Regions from separate parts of the Homo sapiens genome. Here region 2 is linked to region 1. The links come from fine-mapping of genetic effects on gene expression. A gene starts in region 1. The other region holds a variant in brackets. All regions are shown on one strand. Distances are between the middles of the regions.

Region 1 (2,904 bases):
CAGCCTCAGCCCTGGCCCTGACACATGCTCTGGGCCATGGGGAGCCTCAAGGACAGGTGTGGAAGGCTTCCAGGGAAGGCACAGTGGCTGGCAGGTCACCATTTCCAACAGATGTGCCAGAGAAGCCAAGGCTAGGGTAAGGAGACATTCAGGTCACACCCAGGCCCCTCCCTGTTGGCCAAACTCTTATCCCATGTTAGCTCCACAGATCCCAACAGCAGCTGCAGCCCAGTAATTTCCCTTGTAAGGCCTGGGCTCAGAGTAGCTCCTCCCAAGGGGCCCAGGGAATCTGCATGTGGGCTGAGATCCTGAGCCATCCTGGACACTCCTGCTCTATTCTTGTCCCCTGCCCCCCTGGGATGGAGCAAAAGTAGCCATGATGCCACTGCTGGCAGGTGGGGGTCACCCCAGGGCAGAAGGAGGGGTCCAGGGCAAGGGTGCTGACCAACAAGTCCTTACAAGGTGCCAGAACCTTGGGTGGGATCCAGGGTCCAGGCATGCGGGGTGTGCTACAGATGATGAGAAAACAACAGGGTGGGCTGGACACGGTGGCTCACGCCTGTAATCCCAGCACATTGGGAGGCCGAGGGGTGGCAGATCATGAGGTCAGGAGTTCGAGACCAGCCTGACCAACATGGTGAAACCCCATCTCTACTAAAAATACAAAAATTAGCCGGGCGTAGCGGTGCACGCCTGTAATCCCAGATACTCAGGAGGCTGAGGCAGGAGAATCGCTTGAACCTGGGAGGCAGAGGTTGCAGTGAGCCAAGATCGTGCCACTGCATCCAGTCTGGGTGACAGAGACTCCATCTCAAAAAAAAGAAAAGAAAAGAAAACAACAGGTGGCTGAAGCAGCCCAGATGGAAGTCCTTGAGAAGAGGTGGCCATACTCTCCAGTCACCCTCAAGCAGAGACCTCCCCACAACCCCCGGAGGATGGGCCCTCCTACTCTTCTACCCAGATTAGGGAGATTGGGCTGTTGAAGTGGGAAGAGGAAGGAGACCTAACATTTCCCTGTTCTTCCCCAGGGTGGCCTTGTAAAGATACTCAGGCTGTGTATGAACCACACATAGGAGTGCAACATGAATGGGAACCCCTGGATTTGTGTAGCAACGCAGCAGATCCCAGAGGCCCTCCCCAGTTCACCGTGTCCCAGTCCCTGGAAAATACAGACCTGTTGCTTTGCTCCCTGAGCCCTGCTGGACTATGCATGCACCTGTACCTGAGTGTGTGCCTGTGCACACACACTACCCTGAGCCCCTCAGCTCAGAGAGGTCCTACCCAGCAGCAGTGAGAGCCAAAACCTGTACCACAAGGGAACAAAAAAAGTACCCCTGGACTGCCACCCTCAGCCTCCTTCCCGCCTGGCCTTCAGTGTTTCCCCCAGCCTGGATCCAGCTTTGCTTCCCGCCTCCCTTCTCCACCGCCCTCCCCCTCCCCCCACAACCAAGCAGTGTGCCATCTAGCTGAGACAGCTGCAGAGCCTGACTAAGGAATCGCCCCCAGGGGGCCAGACATTTAAGGAACAGATGACACTGGTAGCCTCACTGTTGGGGCAAAGGAAGAAGGAGACGGGCCACCCTACAGTCCAGGCACTAGCTGAGCCTCCAAAGCCGTGGACACAGCATTCGAGTGTTGGGAGGGACTGGTCAGTGCTGAAGGTAAGGCTCCCCTCCTCCCTCAGGAAGGGGACAAAGCTGACCACCTTCTGAGCCCAGAGGGGACTATAGGGTAGAGGGCAGGAATAGGAACAGGGGAGTAGTCTCAGAACCCAAAGGTAGAAGCAGCCCAGGCAGAGATATATTAGGGGGTGGAGAGAGGGAATAGAGTTTAACCCCTAACTACCTGGGTTAAAGAAGGCTTTGGAGCCCTCTGGGACGCCACTGGACTGGAGTCAAAAGCTAGGAGTCTAGTCTGAGTGACCTTGGACAGGTCATTTCTTTCAGACATCAGTTTCCTCATATACGAAATAGGACTTTAAAAACTGCAATGCTGGGCCAGGCGCGGTGGCTCACGCCTGTAATCCTAGCACTTTGGGAGGCTGAGGTGGGCGGATCACGAGGTCAGGTATTCGAGACTAGCCTGGCCAACATAGTGAAACGCCATCTGTACTAAAAATACAAAAAATTAGCCGGGTGTGATGGCGGGTGCCTGTAGTCCCAGCTACTCGGGAGCCTGAGGCAGGAGAATTGCTTGAACCTGGGAGGCAGAGGTTGTCGTGGGCCAAGATCGTGCCACTGCACTCCAGCCTGGGCAACAGAGCAAGACTCTGTCTCAAAAAAACAAAAACAAAAAAACTGCAATGCTGGCCACATGCAGTGGCTCACACCTATAATCCCAGCACTTTGGGAGGCCAAGGCAGGCGGATCAATCGAGGCTAGGAGTTTGAGACCAGCCTGGCCAACAAGATGAAACCCTGTCTCTACTGAAAACACAAAAATTAGCTGGGCATGGTGGCACGTGCCTGTAAACCCAGCTGCTGGGGAGGCTGAGGCAGGAGAATGGCTTGAATTCGAGAGGAGGAGGTTGCAATGAGCCGAGATCACCCAAAAAAAACCGCAATGCTGGTTAAATAAAACATTGAGAAAACATGGTGCTCTGAACAGGAATGAGGAAACGCTATCATCTGGTATGGAAAAAATCTCCAAGACACATTAAATGAAAAAAGAAAGGGTCAGAATAGTGTGTATAATGGGCTACCTTATGTGCTTTTTTAATTAAAAAAAAAAAAGGAAGATGATAAGAACACATGAGTTTTCCTATTTGCATGATGGAGGTCTAGAAGGAGCCTAGAGACTGGCTACCTGTTGCAATGGGGAAGGTTGTAAGATAGACGCAGGAGTGGGAGGGAGCCTGTCCATATGGATTTTTATATTGTTTTATTCTTTAACTATGTGATTGAAT
Region 2 (2,904 bases), 54 kb before region 1:
CTTTGCCCTGCAGTGTTCCCTGCCTGGAATGTCCTCCCTGTATCTGGTGAACTCCTGCTTGTCCTTCGGGTCTCTTCTGTGCAGCTTCCCAGACTCTGTTTTTGTGCCCTCCTGAGTGCTCCCATAAGACAGCCTCAGTGGGCCTTTAATGCATTTCTCACTCAACTCACTAGGCCGAATGCTGGGTGGAGGGCAGGGACTGGCTCTTAGTTATCTGTGTGTCCCCCAAGGCTCAGTACAGAGCCTGATATTAAAGAAATTGATATAAGATTATAGTAAGATTATCTTAGAGACAAACTGGGTTTAAAATACAAAATATATTCTGAACCACCCCCTGGAGCTAATAAAGTTGGAGCTGGGCATGGTGGCTCATGGCTGTAATCCCAGCACCAGGCCGAGGCGGGTGGATCACTTGAGGTCAGGAGTTTGACACCACCCTAGCCAATATGGTGAAACCCCATCTCTACTAAAAATACAGAAACTAGCCAGGTGTGGTGGCAGGCTCCTGTAGTCCCAGCTACTTGGGAGGCTGAGGCAGGAGAATTGATTAAACCCGGGAGGCGGAGGCTGCAGTGAGCCTAGATCGCGCCGCTGCGCTCCAGCCTGGGTGACAGAGGAAGACTCCATCTCAAAAAAAAAAAAAAGTGGTCAAAAAAAGACAGTCTGATCTCTGGCTACAGATGATAAATGTAAACTGACTTCCTGCCAGTGAGGCAGAGACCTCCATCCCTTCCCCAGAGGACCTAGCATCATGGGAAGTGGCATGGATGAGTGCAAAGTAGCGCAGCTCAGGGAGTCAAGGGGGCCGGGGCGGGGCCGGGGGGGTGCGGCAAAGATCAGAGTCAATCTCAGAAGGCTGCCTGGAGGAGGTGAGTTCCAAAGGTTTTCAAAGAGGTCTCTGTGTCAAGCCTAGGAGTTGCATAATCAGAGTGTGAGAGCCCTAAAGCATGATTCAAGGCCACCTGGATCGTGGGCCTGATCTGTCCTCTCATGACCCTGGTACTGAGTGTCATGCAGCAGCCCTTCCCTCTTCCTTCACTCCTTTCCACTCATGTCTTTCTTCTTTTTCTCCCACTTGGTCTTTCCTTCCCATCTTCCTTCCAAATCTGAGTGTAAAGGAAAGAGCTGGACCTGCCTTCCATGTTTTTTTCTCCTCTGCACTGGGCTTTCTGTCGTGGGGGATAAAGAGGGGGTTTTATCCCTTGCCCCTTGTCAGCCTGGGAAGTTTACAGAAGCCAAAGTTATGGACAAGAGAGCCAGGGAGCAGCCCGGGACAGGGTGTGGCTCATTACCAGTTTCCAAGTCACAAAAAGTGCTGGGGGAAGGATTGAGCCAGAGGAGAGGTCAACACACCCTAGACTCACTAGGGAGGTTTCCTGGAGGAGACC[T/C]GGGCTGAGGTGGGCCTTGGAAGGGCTGGAAACCACAGCACAAAGAGGAGGAGCAGGAAGGCCTTTCCTGGCCAGGCCTGAGTGCAGAAGGGTTAAATTAGGCGGGGGGCAGGGGCCCTGATGAGAAGCTGGAGCCCACAGCAGGGTGTGGCAGGAGCTAGGGGCCGCTCTAGGAGCTGAGAGACTAAGGCAGAAAAGCAGGAGGGAGCATGGCTGGGGCAGGCGGATGTCATGGCAGAGGAGGATTTGGGAAATCCTGTGAAGTGGAGTTTCCAGTTCTTTTACCCGCCCTTTCCTAGGGCTCTGGGTCTGACTTGGGGACCTGGAAACAGCCTGGAGCTCTCCAGAGGGCAGAGGAGGTTCTGCTGGGAAGACCCCTCTCATCCTCCAGCTGCTGTCACCTGCATTGTTCTCATTAGCTCCAGGAACACCTGACAGAGCCTGAGGAAATAGGAAGCAGACCTTTGTAGCTGATGGCACTGCCTGGTACAAAGAGCAGGAGTGTCTCCTGTGTGAGGTTGACTTGGAGGGAGACAGGAAGTGAAGCTTCGAGCCAGGTCAGCAGGAATATGGAGAAGGAGGCCTGCCCAGGACTGCCAAGCTCTCCCTATGTACAGCCCTCGCTTCCCAGGCTTCATCACAACCCTGCAGCTCTCATCGGTGCCATGTTAAGTGGGAGGAAATTGAGACTCAGAGAGGTTAGGACACCGACCCAAGGCCCCTTGTGGAGAAAGTGGCAGAGCACAGCATGTTAGCCAGGTCTCTCTGCCTCTGAATTCATCCTTTTCCCGGAGGACCAGGGTTGCCTTACAATATGTGATCTCAGAATGGTCAGTCTGTCGTGCTTTGAGGAATTCAGCCCGTGACTGAGGACCTCTGTTGACAGCCTGCCCTGGGCCCAGGTTTCCAGCTGTCCACTGGCACAGGGAAAGGAGAGAATCAGCCATCCTTGGCCCAGGACCAGGGAGACCACGTACCTGCTCTCATGTCAGTCCCTAACCTCTCTTAAGTGCCTATAGCTCCTGCAGAGTGAGATAATGATGTTTTCATGGGGTTGTCTCAAAGAGCTAATGAAATAAGGTACTGAGAAGCATGTGGCATATGGTAGGTCTGCAGCTGCTATTTATTAAATTTGAATTCAAGAGGTCAGGCTCCTTTCAACCTTGACTCTTGGTCCCACCTGGGATTTTTTCCTAGTTTACACTCTATTTTTTTTTTTTTCCTTGCAAAAGAGCCTCAAATCCAGCTAATGTTTCCAAACCCAGCCTCGCTGTGTCTTCCCCTCCAGGCCCTGCTTCTGACTCAGTTAGACTCTTCCACCAAACCTGAAGATGCCAAGATCTTCCCAGGTTGCCATGACGTGAGCCAGGCCTGAGCACAGAAGGGTTAAATCAGGCTGAGGGTAGGGGCCCTGATGAGAAGCTGGAGCTCACAGCAGGGTGTGGCAGGAGCTAGGGGCCCCTCTAGTTGCAGGTGGGAGCAAACTGAGCTCTGAACTTCAGCTTTCCCCTCTGTA

Alleles and levels. Alleles are on the strand shown, and positions count from the first base shown. SD is a standard deviation of normalised expression in the study named.
As copies of T replace C in region 2, the expression in left ventricle of the gene that starts at base 1,547 in region 1 goes down (small effect, 0.32 SD a copy in GTEx).

Evidence for each region.
Region 2: its variant is fine-mapped to the expression of IGSF22 in left ventricle (GTEx, PIP above 0.99).

Annotation. Positions count from the first base shown.
Region 1 is chr11:18,724,831-18,727,734 of GRCh38, reverse strand. IGSF22 (immunoglobulin superfamily member 22) reads left to right here and starts at 1,547. Exons shown (of 23, transcript NM_173588.4): 1 at 1,547-1,661. All of the region lies in intron 2 of IGSF22-AS1 (IGSF22 antisense RNA 1), which reads right to left.
Region 2 is chr11:18,779,064-18,781,967 of GRCh38, reverse strand. All of the region lies in intron 1 of PTPN5 (protein tyrosine phosphatase non-receptor type 5), which reads left to right. Among named protein-coding and RNA genes, the nearest start is that of PTPN5, 11 kb to the left of the region's middle. The variant T/C (reference allele first, on the strand shown) is at 1,389.